Linked DNA regions of Homo sapiens. The protein of the gene in region 5 purifies or fractionates together with the protein of the main gene of each other region. This does not show direct contact. Each region holds a gene or a part of one and is shown on either strand. Other genes may lie near its edges. The genes, in order: CRYBB1, VLDLR, EHD3, KLHL13 and KIRREL1.

Region 1 (3,523 bases), on a different chromosome or scaffold from region 5:
AGAAAAGCAGAGCAGATCAGGGAAGGCTTCATGGAAGAAGTGACACTAGAGAGGGACCTTGGAGGTTAAGGAGGAGTGCACAAAGCTGAGAAGGGAAGGAGGGTTGAGGGAAGGCACTGAGGCAGAGAAGGCATAGGCAAAAGCTGGGAGGTGGGAATGTGCAAGACAATATCTGTGTGGCCAGGGTGCAGGAAGGCAAGTGCAAGGTGCCAGGCAGGGATGTAAGCACAGGGGACCCTTTGGGGCATGGCAAGACAAATGCCCTTAGTGCAATTACCAGCCAGTGGTAAAAGTACAACAATGATTACTTATTACTGTTACGGTCTTGAGGGCCTTGGGAAGGTTGTTAGTCAATGGCTCCCCACTGCTAGAGGGGTCAAGACTGAACTTGCCACCACCTATGAGACCCTACAAGACCCTGGTCTCCACCACCACCTCCCCTCCCATCTTGCCTCCCTCTTTCCTCCACTCCCTCTGCTGCAGCTTTGTTGGCCACCTTTAATTTTCTTGGTCCCACCAGTCCATCGTTGCTCTAGGAGTTTTGCACACACTGTTCCCTGGAAGGCTTTACCATCTGCTCTTCACGTGGCTGAGTTGGTTTCCAAACTTTGGGAGCTGGCTTCCCTGATGACCCCCTGACCACTCCCACCTCTAACAATATCTGAGCCCCCAGTTCCTGCTTCTGCTTTCCTAGTTAGATTGCATGGCCTTTGTGTAACACCTACCACAGTTTGCAATTGTAGATGGATTTTTATGATTAGCTTTTTGATAGCTGCCTCCCTGGGTAGCTTAAGTCCCATGAAGACAGGGACCTAGTCTGTTTGATGCACAGTTTTGCACTCAGAGCCTAGAACCAGAGCCTGGCAGAAACAGGCCAACTGGTTGGGCGCACTGGCTCATGCCTGTAATCCCAGCACTTTGGGAGGCCCAGGCGGGTAGATCACTTGAGATCAGGAGTTTGAGACCATCCTGGCCAACATGATGAAACCCTGTCTCTATAAAAAATACAAAAATTATCTGGGCGTGGCGGTGCACACCTATAATCCCAGCTACTTGGGAGGCTGAGGCAGGAGAATTGCTTGCCCCAGGGAGGTGAAGGTTGCAGTGAGCCAGAACGTGCCACTACACTCCAGCCTGGGCAACAGAGTTAGATGTGTCTCAAAAAAAAAAAAAAAAAAAAAGGAAAATAGAAACAGGCCAACCAAAATGTCTGGGTTCAAGTAGAAGATGGTCAGGTTTATTTTTTTTTTTTATTTTGAAAAGATCCCTCTAACTTCCCACGACAGGGGGCTGGAAAGGAGTCAGGGAACCCAGCAGGGAGAGAGCTGAAGATGACCAGGTCAGAGATGATGGTGGCCTGGACCAGGACTGTGGCAGGGCAGAGAGAGGAAGGGTTAGACCAAGCTTATTTAACCTGCGGCCTGCAGGCCACATGTGGCTCAGGATGGCTTTGAATGTGGCCCAACACAAATTTGTGAACTTTCTTAAAACATTATGAGATTTTTTTTGCAATTGTTTTAAAGCTCATCCGCTATCGTTAGTGATAGTGTATTTTATGTGTAGCCCAAGACAATTCTTCCAGCGTGGGCCAGGGAAGCCAAAATATTGGGCACCCCTGAATTAGATGGTTGGATCTCAGCCCTGGCTGCACAGACGGACTACTTAGAGGGCATAGAAAAGATAGCAGTGCCGGAGTTCCAGCCCTAGAGATTCAGAATTAATTGGTCTGGGGTGGGGTCTAGGCTTTGAGATTTCTAAACATTTCTAATAACATATTTTATTTAAACAAATATACCTAAAATATTATAATTTCAATATGTAACCAATATAATGATATCAATGCATTGTTGACATTCTTTAAAATTTTTTTTACTATGTATTCAAAACCTAATATGTATTTTACACTTATGACACATCTCCATTTAGCCAAAATTCAAGTGTCCAATGGCCACATATGGCTACTGCCTATTATGTTGAATAGCAAGCTTCTAGAAGCTACTGGAAATGCCCTGGTTGATCACTCTTCCAAACAAACCCCTTAACATAGGTTGGCATATAAGAACCATTCAATGATTGAGAGAGACATCTGTGAATTCTTACAGAGAGTGCATCATGAAGGCAAATAATTCAGTCTTACATTCTGCGAAAAGTGTTGGGAATGATCTGTTTGAATAATCCATTAAGATAAATTTGGTGATGTCAAAACAGCTGGTGGTTGGCACTTGATAGCCTCAAATGCACATTCATGAAAATTCTTATAAATGTTCCCATCATGGAAGACAAAAGTCGGTTACCATCAGCAACTAACATTGGTGAGTAAGATGTAGCTGGTTCATGACTCATCATCAACTTAATTCTGGAAAAAACTGTGAATCACTTGGAGATATCGCCACCATTTTGACCTTGAATCTTCTGGAAGTTGACTTAGTTAAATATTATAAGAAACTAATTCAGTATATTGTCTTATTATTAAGAGGTTCAAGCTGCGTTTCTACAGTATCCCTCTCCTTTTTTTTTTTTTTTTTTTTTGAGATGGAGTCTGGCACCGTCACCCCGGCTGGAGTGCAATGGCATGATCTCGGCTCACTGCAACCTCTGGCTCCCGGGTTCAAGTAATTCTCCTGCCTCAGCCTTGCTAGTAGCTGGGATTACAGGCATGCGCCACCACGCCCGGCTAATTTTTGTATTTTTAGTAAAGACGGGGTTTCGTCATGTTGATCAGGCTGGTCTTGAACTCCTGACCTTGGGTAACCACCCACCTCAGCCTCCCAAAGTGCTGGGATTACAGGCATGGGCCACCATGCCCGGCTACAATATCCCTCTTCTTAGCCATTGCATGATCTGCAACCAGCATGTTTGGTGTTTCGAATGGGCACTGAAATTTGAAAAGTTTTCCCAGGCCTGGCATGGTGGCTCACGGCTGTAATCCTAGCACTTTAGGAGGCCCAGGCGGGAGGATCACTTGAGGCCAGGAGTTCAAGGCTGCAGTGAGCTATGATCACACTACTGTACACCAGGCTGGGGGACACAGCAAAACCCCATCTTTGGGAAAAAAAAAAAAAAAAAAAGCTCCCAGTAAGGTCTAAATGTGCAGCCAGGGATATCAAGAGAATCAAGGAAGATGCTGAAGTTTTTAGCTCTAACTTGGAAGCTTTTGTGCTTATCATTTGCCCAGGGTTCCTAGCTGGGTATGTAGTGAGTGTGTTAAGGACACTGATGAATTGATGAGCTCAAGAATCCACGGTCCTTTGACAACTCGGAGGCTGCCACGCCTCCCTACCCACCATCATCTCCTTCTTGCCCTTGTCAGATCTCAGACTTACACCTGCCCTGCCCCGCCTGGCTGATTCTCCAGCCCCAGCCGGAGAGCCACTCACCATTTTGATGGGCCGGAAGGACATGAGCCGATCACTGCGGTAGCTGCTCGACCATGTGTTCCAGCGAGGGTACTCGCCCTTCTCCAGGATGAACATCTCCCCGCGGAAGTTGGACTGCTCAAAGGCGACCCAGCTGGATACAAGAA
Region 2 (3,523 bases), on a different chromosome or scaffold from region 5:
GAACAGACCCTTCCCTCACAGCCCTCAAGAGGCACCAACCCTCCTGGCACCTTGATTTCAAACTTCTGGCCTCCAGAGTTTTGAGACAATAAATTTCTGTTGTTTAAGATAGTCTGTGGTACTTCATTGCAAAAATCCTAGCAAACTAACAGTAGAGAAAGCTTGTAGCACAAAAGCTACTTTGGAGGCTACTGCAATAGTCTTGGCAAGAGGGGCTGAAGGCCAAGGGGACATGAATGAAACAGAAATAAAAGCTCTGACACTGAGGCTTGGGAGGAAAGCCAGGAGCTGAAGTTGAGAAGCCATTTCTCTGAGGCAGCAGAAATAAAAAAATAACATGTGAAATGTTTAAGGTAGGGTACAGGAGGGCAAAAGTTCCCTTTTAAAGAAAACTGAGTTGCCAAGAGCTACTGACATCCAGCAGGTTCTGTGTCATGCTGCTTCCCTTAAAGTAGTTATTAAGGACTGTGCTTCTCCACGGTACCTGATGGCTGTACAAGTTCATGATAGACAATGATGTCTTGGGCATCATTCAGGTTGTTGACTAGAGTGGCTAGCTCTGATCCAGTGAATTTATTGGCACCATAGACTGCTTCATTTTCCCCATCTATCCAGTAGACACGATCCTAAAACAGAAGCCCACAATTAGCATGTACATCCAGGATTAACACAAGTCCATTTCTAAGGTCATCATCATTTACTTCTCATTTAATGGACTAAGTTTACTGAATGCTGAACTGGGACACTGGATATAAAACTGTAAAAGAATCAAGTTTAGGTGTGGAGTGCTTCTGGGACTTAGTGTCTGATTTGTACCAGGTTTTAAGTGAAAGCAGTTTCTCAAGCCATGTTCAGCTGCTCTTCCCTCCTCCCGCTATGTCTGTTATTTCTTCTCAAAGTGATATAGTAGCTCAAAGGTACACACTTTGATGTGAGACACATCTTACCTCAAATATTGTTAGTGCAAGAGGATGAGCTAGGAACTCCAGAGACTTTAGTACTATCCTACGATCTTGGCCATTCAAGTCCACGCTGGATAACATGTGCAACTTAGAATCAAGCCAATAGAGGCGACTTTTTATAAGGTCTAGGTAGGAAAAGAATTGTCATTACATGACAAGCCACTACTACTCTGGCTTCCATTAAAAATATCTAATGAATTAATAATCTACTTTCACGGTTCTTTCCCCAGCAGGGTTTCTTAACGGGGTCACCATAAACCTTGCGAAGCAGCATGCAGAGCCTGTATCCACGTTCATTTTTGGGGACTAACAGGGTACCTGAGATTCTCAAAGCAAATGACTTAAGAAATATTACTCACATTACAGAAAATATTAAAAGAGGCTACCATTTTGTTGTTCTCCTCCAAAAAGCCAGAAGAAAACTGTTAAAAGCCTGCAATTCAGGAAATGCTAAGGCACTCATGCCCAGAATATTTAGTATGAGTGCACCCAAGACCCAACGTTCACTGAATTTGTGTCACATATTAGGCCCAGCTGGACAACAGGCCAGTAATTATGGAATGTGTAATTTGTTAATCCACCATTTTACTTGTGTTGTTCAGTTACTCCCATTGAAAATTCCTGCTAGAATTTAGGCGGAAGCAGTAGAGTCATCTGCTAGTCCAGAATTCACCATGGAGATAAATGGAAACACTATGAAGATAGTTGAGTGGGTGGTCGAGAAGGAAGAACATACATACCAAGTGTAATTCCGTTAGGCCACTGGATATCCGCTGTCACCAGTGGACGTCTATCGAATCCATTCATTCCTGCTTTTTCTATTTTAGCTGGTTCACCCCAGTCTGACCAGTAAACAAAGCTGTGAAAAATTAAATGAGAAATAAGCCTCAGTGGTTTAGAAGGAATAAAGTTGTAGTAGCTGGAAACAAAAATTTAAAATTTGAGCAGAAAACTCAAGGCATTCTCTAGTGACAAATAGTAACACTTAAGGGTCTAAATTATGTTCTAGGTAAATAAAATTGAATATTAAGAATCTACAAGCTCATTATTAACTATAATAATCTATGTTTGTCTGACATTTAAATTTCGGCCCAAAGTCACAAGGTTATGTTTCCTTTTTAAAAGGTCAGTTCTTACAGAGGAGTGCAAGACGAACATCCTTCAAATTTCATAGCAGGGGTTGGCTGGCTGACTGAGTTCTAATGAGGCTGCACGGGGGCCAGTTGTGATGACAACTACAGCCTTAGTCAACTTCCTGAGCTGCTCTTCTATGTTACTTAGTGGCAATTTACAGAACCCCCTTAGTGAAATGTTTCTAGAAAGGTCTGTTTATTTCTGCTGGACTTTCAGACAACTTGCACACTTAGATGCAATGTGGTTACCCAAATCCTCACAATTCAGGCTGTCGTTTAGGTTTGATCATCCAGAGCTAGCCCAGCAAAGCTTTCAGTCAAAAATTAAAAAATCACTTGCGTAGAAACTGGGTGGACAAAAGGGTTCAGATACAGCTTTTGGTACACACATCAAATCAGGAATGTTAATTCATTAATGTCAGCCAGCAATCAGTCATACGAGAGTCAGACAGGAGGACCTGTCATATAGATAAGGACATCCCAGGGTCACTCACCTGGGGCAAAACTGATATCTTAAATTAGAATTCTAATTCTTTGTTGCAGAAGGCTCATAAACCTTGAGATTTGAGTACTAATTCAGGTATGAGAAAGCTCCTGACCTACACAGATACCATTCCAAAGTCTGTGATGGAAAACAGACTACAAACCCAGACAGTGGGTCCACAGCTATGGAGGCAGGCTCTCGCAAGTCAGAGTTAAACAGGAACTTCCTCTTGGTTCCATCTAGGGTAGCTACTGAAATAGTCTTAGAAGCCGCATCAGTCCAGTAGATGGTCTTGTACACCCAATCAACAGCAATGGCTGCAGGATTATAGACATTGTCGATCATTTTAACATGTCTACCAACCTTGTCATCAATTGAGGCACTGAAACAGAATAGGTCACAAGAAATTTAAGAGTTTGACACAATTAGAGCTTGGAGAATGGACTTTTTGCTTACAAAATGGTCAATGACTTTGTTCAGAAAGAAATCCAGTTAACACCACAGCTCACCACTCAAATTATTTAACCATGCTGCTTACTGATCCTAAATTAATAATGCTGTAGATTATCTAGTTGCTGGTATGTATTCTATATACAAGAACAACAAATTTCTAAGTGAAGCTATTTGTTTCAGTATCCATCATCTGAGTTTCTATAGTTCCCATTAAGAAAAGGCTGTACTACCATTTCTATTTGTAGCAACAATGAACAGTTCTCAATTAACTGTAGAGAAAAGGGAGAAAATATAAAAAATATGAAAGATGTCATCTTTTACTTCATAGACAATTGTTAGTTTCTAATTAGGAAGTGATAACAGTTTAATAAAGAATTAGCATTAGATTTAATGTCCCCAGGTAATTCGATGCTAGATGGGGCTAGACACAAAAGAAACTCCTCCAAACTATCCCACAGATCACTTCCCAAGTGACAATGACTTATGTCAAG
Region 3 (2,423 bases), on a different chromosome or scaffold from region 5:
CACATAGAATAATGTATATAAAGTGCCTAACACAGCTCCTGGTACGCAGGAGGGGCTGGGTAAATGTGAGTCAAGTATGAACATCTAAACATCATAGGCCAGGTGGAAAGAACATCTAACAAAATCTATGAACTAAAACCACCTTGACTGGTTTTCAATAGACTACAGGACAATTTCCTCACTCTTATCAATTTTTTTCTCTTCTCTCTCCCGCTCTGGGATTCTTTAAAATGAAATACTGGCAGAGTTCAAAGCAAGGTTTGCCGAAGAAGACAGAGGCTTAGATTAGGAAAGAACAGAGCTCCTGGGCCAATGTCTCTAGAAGACGCTTCCTTTCTCACCTCTCCTCCCTGCAGCTGCCCGCCTGCCCTCAGATCTCCTAGCTCTTGAATGGATTTCTTATTAGGAAGCCAAAGCAGATAGGGGAAGCACAGAAAAAGAAGTGAATTGTCTACTAAATGAAAAGTCTTTTCCATTTGCTCAGAGCCCGGGTGTGGAAGCACTGGGGAATCTGGAGGTGGGTTGGCCATCTGTGCTGGCAAGTGAATTGCCTCAGGTCTGGTATCTGGGGAGTGGCCGAGGAGAGGGGAAGAGCGATAGAGACTTAGGCTTAGACTCTGGGGCCTGGGAGTGCTCTTGTCCTTCTAATCCCGAGAACTTGGAGGTGTGCCCAAACAAGTATCAGCTGCAAACATGGGCGTCATGGTCCTCTCTCACCTACAGAGCAATGTCAAGATATGCATATGTGTGTGTGCATGTTTGTGTGTGTGTGTGTGTGTGTGTGTGTGTGTGTAGTCACCGCTCCCATCTCCTCCTCTAACACTGCCCGTCTGAATGTCCCCCCACCCCATCACTCGGCAACTTTCCTCTTGGACGGGGGCAGGAGGTGGGCAGGCAGCTCGTTGGGCAGCTCGTGCCCCTCCAGCTTGACTTTGATGAGGTGGTTGGCCAGTGCAAACTCGTCGTCGTCCAGCATGCCATCCTTGTCAATGTCGGCCAGCTTCCAGATCTTGCCCAGCACACTGTTGGGCAGCTTGGAGCGCACCATCTCCTTCTTGGCATTAGCGCCTGTGATCTTGCCATCCACCGGTGACAGGGTGTAGAAGATCTCGTCGTACATGGGCTTGTCCCTGGCCACCACCCACTCAGCATCATCGATACCTTCTCCAGCCCCCTCCCCATAGCCATGCCCAAAGGGGCCGTGCAGGGTGCCCTCGAACGCTCCGCCCTTCACCATCTGGATGGGCCGCTGTGACTCCTCCTGGCGCACTAGCACCATGAGCTGGGCAATGTCATGGGCCAGCATGTCGTCCACTACCTCCAGCAGCTTGCTCTTCAGCGGCTGGAACTTGCTAAAGTCCTGGGCCTGCAGCTGGTCCTGGGAAGAGGAGGAGAGAGGATGAAGATAGGATACGATGAAAGGAGAGCCCTCCATTTATCACGTGCCTCCTATGAGCACCAGAATGTTCACAGCTGATCCCTTTCTACAATGAAAGACCTGTGACCTAGAGGCTCAGCTGATGGACATCACGTGGTAATCGAAGGTATGAGAGAGGAGGGGAATAAAGGCCCACTGGGCTGATGATGGGATTTTTCAGTAGGGGGTAGAAGGGTTGTAGGGGCTGGGGAAGAAAGGGAAATTTAACAAGTATTGGCATGATCTATTTATTTCAATCCCCTTCAATGTCATTCCAGAGAGGAAATCATTACATTTCTCTTTAAGTCAGTTTTGGCTATTGAATCATGTCTCTTGAATGCTGTACCTCTGAGACTGGGTCATGTGGGCCTCTACTTTAATAAGGGTTATACTGTACTTGAAAATCACCGCAAGTGCCTTCACTACATTACCTCGTTCACTCCCCCAGCGCCCTTCTGAGGTAGGAAAATCACATTCTATCCCCACTTAGTGAAAACAAAAACAAAAACCAAACAGGGCACAGGGTACTAAAACCAAATCATAACAGAAGCCAAAGGTCATCCCCAAATTATGGTTCTTAATCAGGATGCTCATCGGAGTCACCTGAGGAGAGTTTTCAAAATACAGTCATGTGCTGCATTACAATGTTTCAGTCAATGAGGGACCACACGTATGACGAGGGTCCCAGAAGACAATAAGGGAGCTGGGAAATTCCTGTTGCCTGGTGACATTGTAGCTACTGTACACAACACAACGCATTATGTGTTTGTGGTGATGCTGGTGTAAACAAACCTACTGTGCTGCCAGTGGTATAAAAATCTAGCACACACATTTCCATAGAGTACATAATACCGGATAATGATAACGGCTATGTTACTGGTTTATGTAAATATTTACTATACTGTACTTTTTATTGTTATTTTAGGGTGTATTCTTTCTACTTATTTAAAAAAAATGTTAACAGTAAAACAACCTCAGGCAGGCCCTTCAGGAGGAATTCCAGAAG
Region 4 (3,523 bases), on a different chromosome or scaffold from region 5:
TAGTTCCAAAGAAATCATGGCACTTTCCTTAATTTGGCTCAGGATGACCATGTGTTGCTAAGATCAGTGTAAAGCAATGTTAAGAGTCTATAAGTACAAGCTTTAAGTGTTACTACTAAATTAAATTCTGGACTTGAGGCATTTTGAAAATCACATTCAATATGATTCATTTTTCCTTGAAATGAAGTTGTTATATCATGCCAGTGACACAACCAGAGGTGAGATCCTAATAGCTCTTGAGGGAATGGGCCTTGCATGATCAAATTTAAATAAAATTTAGCACCTAAATTCAGTAATGGAGGCAAGCAATAGCATGGGAATTAACCAACTTCACTTGGGCTACTTTCGCAATAAAGAAGACAATACAAGTCAACAATATAGCACCATGCTGCCATAAAAACCCTTAAAAGTAGCAATTAGTTCAAATTTTATAAGTAATTGTGAGACAGCAGTCTGAGTTTTCTAAAATCAAACATACAAAAAACACACTTTCAATAGGCCAGTTAAATTAGTTATTGGCTGACTTTTAAGATAGTTAAGTACCTTAATAATAAAATAATTAAGGACATGGCTCTCTTGAAACTTAGTGTTTTAAAGAAGGTTCCATGTTCAAAAAATGTAAGTTGTAAAGATCTAACAGCAATTATTTACCTATATTAAGATTCATATGAGTTAAAAAATTATAGAAAACATATCCATCAACATAATGAGTTAGAAAATATACCAAAAATTAATATTGCCAGAATTCTTAATCAGAAAAACAAGCTCCAAGACCTCTGGAAGTCTTGGCAATATTTCTGTCCAATGTAGCCATTTATCTCCCCAGAAGTAAAATTTAAAGGTCTCAACTAAAATAAAACACTCTCTTCAGGAACTGGGTGACTATCATTAAGTACTCCATCGATTGGTAGTTGTATGTGTCCTATCTTATCTATTAAAAAATGGCTAAACACTATTCAGTAGGTGATATGTTTCTATGGAATCAAGACTTACATTCTTACAGGTTTGCCCATAGGTATTAGTTCTTCTTAAGATCTAGCTCCCTTATTAAAAGAAGAAATTTTAAAGAGTTCTAGAAGCTCAGATTACTTTTCCATTCAATTACATTTAAGAAGCCTGCTTGTATAGTCATTAAGGTGAATAAAACCAGATTATGGTACATACCATTATCAAACAGTTAAAGTATATATCTTCATCAAACATTATTAGTATCTCATGTCATTTGATTACACAGAGGCTTTTTTTTTCTTCCTGAGATGGAGTCTCACTCTTGTTGCCCAGGCTGGAGTGCAATGGCGTGATCTCAGTTCGCCACAACCTCCACCTCCCAGGTTCAAGCGATTCTCCTGCCTCAGCCTCCCAAGTAGCTGGAATTACAGGCATGCACCACCATGCACAGCTAATTTTTGTATTTTTAGTAGAGACGGGCTTTCTCCATGTTGGTCAGGCTGGTCTTGAACTCCCAACCTTAGACGATCTGCCCGCCTCGGCCTCCCAAAGTGCTGGGATTACAGGCGTGAGCCACGATGCCCGGCCAACACAGAGGCTTTTATTAAATGATTCTATTTCATAAAAATGCACCTGTTTCAATCTCACCTTGCTTACAGACCACATACAACAAGACACATCTGTCTAATGGCAAGTTTCACATTCCTGCACAGCAGATTTCATGAGTCCTAAACAGGCTACATCAGAGTCTACCACAGGAAAAATCAGATTTCAAAATATCTTACCCCAGATATGAGAAACACTTTACAGAAGTCCAAAACTGGCAGAATCTGTAGGAAACTGGCAGCTTCCAGCGTGTCTTGAAGGTTGTCCATATTAAGAGAAAGCTTTGCAGTATAAATGAAATCAATAATTTTCCTTAGACCGACTTTGCTCACACCATGAAGTTTAATGCACATTAAATCTTGTTCTTTCATTCCACCTTAAATAAAAAGACATTCAATTAAATGAAGGTGGATAATTATGGTCAAACTCACTTCTGCTGCTAATTAGATGCAATAAAATCAAAGGAAAGTCTTATCTTATATAAGCAGTCATATTAGAGTCAGTCTGCTGCACATTTTACTGTTAAAAGAAAGTACTTAAAAAAGATAATCTCTATACTAATGGAGGTCATATATGATGCAAGTGCTTCCAAAATGTTCTCACTTCCTATTTTTTGACATAGAGTAGAGATTGTACTAGGAGGACACAGAGTCTCTGATGGCCCACTAGATATAAGCTTGAAAAAGAAAAGCTGTGAGATAAAGATGGACAGTATGAAAAAAGTGCATCAATTTTCCATGTTAAAACAGCACCACCGAAAACCATACATACTGTTGTGTACTTCTTTTGAAGCTGTTTCCAAAAGAACCAAATTTCATGTTAGAAATAAAAAAGATTTAAACACGGATTTTTCATATTGTTTTAATGTGGTTTCAGAGTTTTAAAAGGCAAACTACCTGTGAACATAGCCTTGAAGTAATCACTAGCAGATGCCATCATGACTCTATGCACAGGGAAAGCATCATCTGTGTCACCTGGCATCAGGGTCACATCACAAAGCAATCCTTCAAGTCGAAGCTGGTCAAAGCCCTACAACAAGAACATGAGTTGAGTCACTAATCAAGGTAAAATGAGGTTACAAATCTTCGTGTGCTAAAATTGTTTGAATATTAATGTGGTGCAACATATGTGGAACATAAAGCCAACAGAATATTCGGGAGAAGAAAAAATAACTGCACAACTTTCCTGATATGTGACAATGCATGTTTTCTTTCACTGTAGGAATAACACAAAATTAAGACTAATTTAGGTTAAAAACGATTAAGGAAAAAGTATATACTTTTGCTTATTTACACAATTATCAGCTTTTACCTTATTTTGAAAAATAATTACAATGTGCACTTCTACTTTCCCATCTGCAGAATGAGAGTATTAGACTGTCTTAACATTCCTTTTCGCGATAATTTAATAGTCCTTTTATAGTGCTTGACTGAAGCATCTTGGTTTTGTTTTGTTTTGGGGGAGGTTGAGAAAGAAAAGTAGAGAGCAACTGTATTAAGTACACGATAGTTCTTTCTACTAATTGTATTACTTCATCTCTTTGAGAAGCCTATACTCAGTACATTGCTGCTGCCTGGCCAAATATCTTTCAAGTTTCAAGTTTGAGACTTAATTATCTTTGTTTGAAAAAAAACAAAAAAAAGCCCAGGAAACCCCAACATGAGACTTAATTGTCTCCAAATGCCTAAAGGTTTAGTGGAGAATTAACAGGCTAGCAGCCACAATTCAGAGGAGTGACAGAGCTCTGGTGAGAAGAATCCTTGTTGATTAGCTTTTTCACTACACCCTGATGGTCTCAACTAACGACAAATAGACAGTTGTTCTATTGATATAAGTTGGAAGAATGACAATCACTTTTAAGATTATAACAGGTTGAATCTACAACATACACATATTTCAAAACATCATGTTTTTCAATTTTTATCTTTTATTTTTAATTTTTGTGGGTACAGAGATGTATGCTTTAGGG
Region 5 (3,082 bases):
ACGCCTTCCACTCCCCAGAAAAGCTATTCCACTGGGCCCATCAGGTAGGTTCCAATTCAGATTCTGATGCACCAACACGTAAGTTACAGAGGGCAGAGACTACCTTGGTTGCTGATGCTTCCCTGTGCCTTCCAGGGTGCTTGTTTGACACCCAAGAGGCTCCAGTTACCTTGTTAAGGAGTAGAGGACAGTGAAGTAGCTCTGTGTCAGGCTTCTGGAAACTAGGCTTCCTTTCTCAACAATTCTCCCTGCACCATCAGCTCAATTACCTAGTAACCTTAGGCCCTCTCTCCATCATTTCAGTAGAATGAAACTAATACTTAAGCTAAAAGGGGATAAATAAGAGAATCTAGCCAAACCCAAAACAAAAATGAATTCTTTTTGGAATATGCATGTTTTAAAAGCCACCATCTTTAGACTTCAAGTCTTTGGATTCCCCCATGGTTTCTGGTTTTTGTGAAAATAATAGAAATTTGCATGAATTTGTCTGTACAAGAACCTGAATTTCTTGACAGACCTTCCCACTGAGCTCTCATAAAAGGACTCTATAGAAAGGTATCAGCTTCCAGGGATGGAATACAGCTGGAAGCCTGTAAATGCCCCAGATAGGGCCCACTCCACAGGAGTTTTCCCTGCTGAAATGAAGGAGGATGCACAGACTTCCTGTGAAGTTAAAATTAGAGCTACTTGCTTCCTGGGTATTATCTGGTCCTTCCTACAAGGGGTTGGCCAGGAATGTCGCCCCCCAGACCCATCCATAAGGGTGGTAATGGCCTGTGGCTGATAAGCATGTAACTCATTAAAGCGAACATGAATTATGAATGGTGACCACGGAGAAAGGGCGAGGAACATTTTGGGAACTGCACCAGAGGCCCTGTCTCCCACTGGGCTGGACATGCAGCTGGGGAGGCGGGAAACAGCCAACTCCAGACACTGCTTTTTAGGAAGGCGAGGCTGGGGCAGGGGTACAGGTTCTCCTTGGAGCGCCTGTTCTCTTTGGTCAGAAAGTGGTGGCTGAGAAGCAGTCACATGGAAGGTGTGTGTTGGATGTGCGTGCACATGGAGGAGGAGAAATGGCCTGTGTAATGCCTGCGGTGCCCTTCCGCACCACCTTCTCCCGGTCAGCACAAGTTCTCTGTCAGGGCCATTTCCAGGCCCCTTACCTCTCCAGGTCCCCTCACCCATCTCTCTCCTAACACTGTAACACTTAACAGTGTGTCCGAGGCTCACAAGTACCCACTCCCCACACAACCGCCCACATAGGGTCGGTCATCCAAAGCTTGACACTCAAGGCACTGAAAGTGGAAGAAGGAATCTGATTGGTCCAAGAAAAAAAAAAAAGACACTTAAAAACCAAAACCTGTCTCCCATACCCCCTGGAAGGTGGCCTCCAACCAACTGATGGGACATAGGAGAGTAGAGACTGAGAGCCAGGCCCCCTCCGTAACCCTATCAGAGTCCACTGTGTGACAGGTCTGGCAACCTGAATGTTTAAAAATGGATTCAAAGTGCTTGGAGACTGAAAGAGTAATGGAGGGTGTTAGGAACCCCATGGAGAAGAATAGGTACTACCTTTCCTTTCCACTGGGACTTGTATTTGGGTGGGGGAATCCCTACAGCTTTTCTTCCCAAATGAGGTTTTCATTGTTTTTTGTTTTCTTTGAAAAAGAGCCTACAGCACCCCCACCCCTACCTCACCACTCCCCAAACCAGCTCAAGAGTTAAAGCCAGGAAGTGGGGCAGACTGGGGAGAGGAGGCTTGTGTGGCTCCCTCTAGTGTTGGTTCACTGCTGTGCAGCACACAGCAGTATCTGGGTCAATGAGGACATGGTCCTAGCCTTTCTTTCTCCACCAGGACCCTGACTTATCTGGCTGGCCCAGCATGGAGGAGAAGGAAAGCGGGCCGTGCTGCCGGGGGGATTCCTGGATCCCTCTGCATGCTGACAGACAGCTGTCCACAGTGGGTAGCCAAGGTGACTGGCATTTTGATCCCAGCTGAATGAAGACTGGATTTGAATGCAGTGCCAGGGCTGTTCTGTAGACAAGAGCGAACAGTACCCTGTTCGCTCCCTTCTGCAGTACCCTGAGGAAGGAGAGAGGCACCCAGGGCACGAATGCAGACAACAGAGGGACTGGCCAGGCTATCCCGTTTTCCACCTGTCTGTGCCACAGCCACCCACTCCCATACTTCATGTCCCTAGGCCAAAGCCTGCCCATCCCTGGGTACCCCCATTTCCACTTATGGGAGATCAGAGGGGTGGGATAGAAAGGGAATGCTAAAAAGTGCCCCCCTCTGCTTTCCCTAACCTTCACTTTCCCTGTCCCCATTCTAGGGTCAGGCAAGAGTGCAGGTCAGAAGAGACACATCCTCCCGAAGAAGAGGGAAGGGCAGGCCCAGGAGGCTGGGGCATGCACAGAGCACCATCCTCGGGACGGGGTGTTTCTGGGAGACCTGCTCCCCACCTGCCATGGTGGGAGGAAGAAGGCTGGTCCGAGAAGGGAGCAATGAGCAATGCCCCTGAATATCAGGGAACAGCTGTGAAAGCCTTCTCCTCTGCCCCGCAGAGATGCCCCAGCCAGGCTCTGGCCCCTACACGTGAGTCTGCATGCGCTGCTGGAATCGCTGGCCGTAGTCCGAGTGCTGGGAGGTGTAGGAGAATCGAGTGGCTGTGGCGTACTTGCCAATGGGGTCATACGCCTCATATGGGGTCCGCTCCAGGCCAGAGGGTGGGGCCTGGGGGTAGCCCAGTCGGTAGGTGGGGTACCCAGCTGCCCCAGGGAAGGGATGGGAGTTGAACTTCTCATAGTTCTCGTAGGACAGCTGGCTGGTTGTGTCAGTGCCAGCTGGGGCAGCAGGGCCAGGGGGTGTGGGCTCAGGGCCATAGTCAGAGGCAGGGCCCCGGCTATAGGTGTTGAGCTGGGCATAGCCGCTGGAGTGGGAGAGACGGGATGAGGGGCGGCCGTCGAAGCGGGCAGGGCCAGGGGCACGGTAGTCAGCATAGAGCACTGCCCTGGAAGACGGGCGGTCTTCATGGGCACGCACGTTGTAGTAGCCATTGGTGGGGTCCTGGGGGCAATGAGA

Evidence for each region.
Region 1: the proteins of KIRREL1 (region 5) and CRYBB1 purify together in Homo sapiens (co-immunoprecipitation; one large-scale study listed by IntAct). This does not show direct contact.
Region 2: the proteins of KIRREL1 (region 5) and VLDLR fractionate together in Homo sapiens (co-fractionation; one large-scale study listed by BioGRID). This does not show direct contact.
Region 3: the proteins of KIRREL1 (region 5) and EHD3 purify together in Homo sapiens (co-immunoprecipitation; one large-scale study listed by IntAct). This does not show direct contact.
Region 4: the proteins of KIRREL1 (region 5) and KLHL13 purify together in Homo sapiens (co-immunoprecipitation; one large-scale study listed by IntAct). This does not show direct contact.

What each region holds. Positions count from the first base shown.
Region 1 is NC_000022.11:26,604,512-26,608,034, forward strand, and holds part of CRYBB1 (beta-crystallin B1), read right to left. Parts: exon of another isoform or gene 3,511-3,523; coding exon 3,378-3,510; exon of another isoform or gene 3,311-3,377; intron 1-3,310. UniProt on the Homo sapiens protein: Crystallins are the dominant structural components of the vertebrate eye lens.
Region 2 is NC_000009.12:2,645,772-2,649,294, reverse strand, and holds part of VLDLR (very low-density lipoprotein receptor isoform a precursor), read right to left. Parts: intron 2,962-3,523; coding exon 2,743-2,961; intron 1,822-2,742; coding exon 1,703-1,821; intron 1,088-1,702; coding exon 948-1,087; intron 627-947; coding exon 485-626; intron 112-484; exon of another isoform or gene 1-111. UniProt on the Homo sapiens protein: Multifunctional cell surface receptor that binds VLDL and transports it into cells by endocytosis and therefore plays an important role in energy metabolism.
Region 3 is NC_000002.12:31,265,132-31,267,554, reverse strand, and holds part of EHD3 (EH domain-containing protein 3), read right to left. Parts: exon of another isoform or gene 1,615-2,423; intron 1,379-1,614; coding exon 851-1,378; 3' UTR 1-850. UniProt on the Homo sapiens protein: ATP- and membrane-binding protein that controls membrane reorganization/tubulation upon ATP hydrolysis. In vitro causes tubulation of endocytic membranes. Binding to phosphatidic acid induces its membrane tubulation activity.
Region 4 is NC_000023.11:117,917,788-117,921,310, forward strand, and holds part of KLHL13 (kelch-like protein 13), read right to left. Parts: intron 2,584-3,523; coding exon 2,451-2,583; intron 1,931-2,450; coding exon 1,734-1,930; intron 1-1,733. UniProt on the Homo sapiens protein: Substrate-specific adapter of a BCR (BTB-CUL3-RBX1) E3 ubiquitin-protein ligase complex required for mitotic progression and cytokinesis.
Region 5 is NC_000001.11:158,094,629-158,097,710, reverse strand, and holds part of KIRREL1 (kin of IRRE-like protein 1 isoform 1 precursor), read right to left. Parts: intron 3,068-3,082; coding exon 2,591-3,067; 3' UTR 1-2,590. UniProt on the Homo sapiens protein: Required for proper function of the glomerular filtration barrier. It is involved in the maintenance of a stable podocyte architecture with interdigitating foot processes connected by specialized cell-cell junctions, known as the slit diaphragm.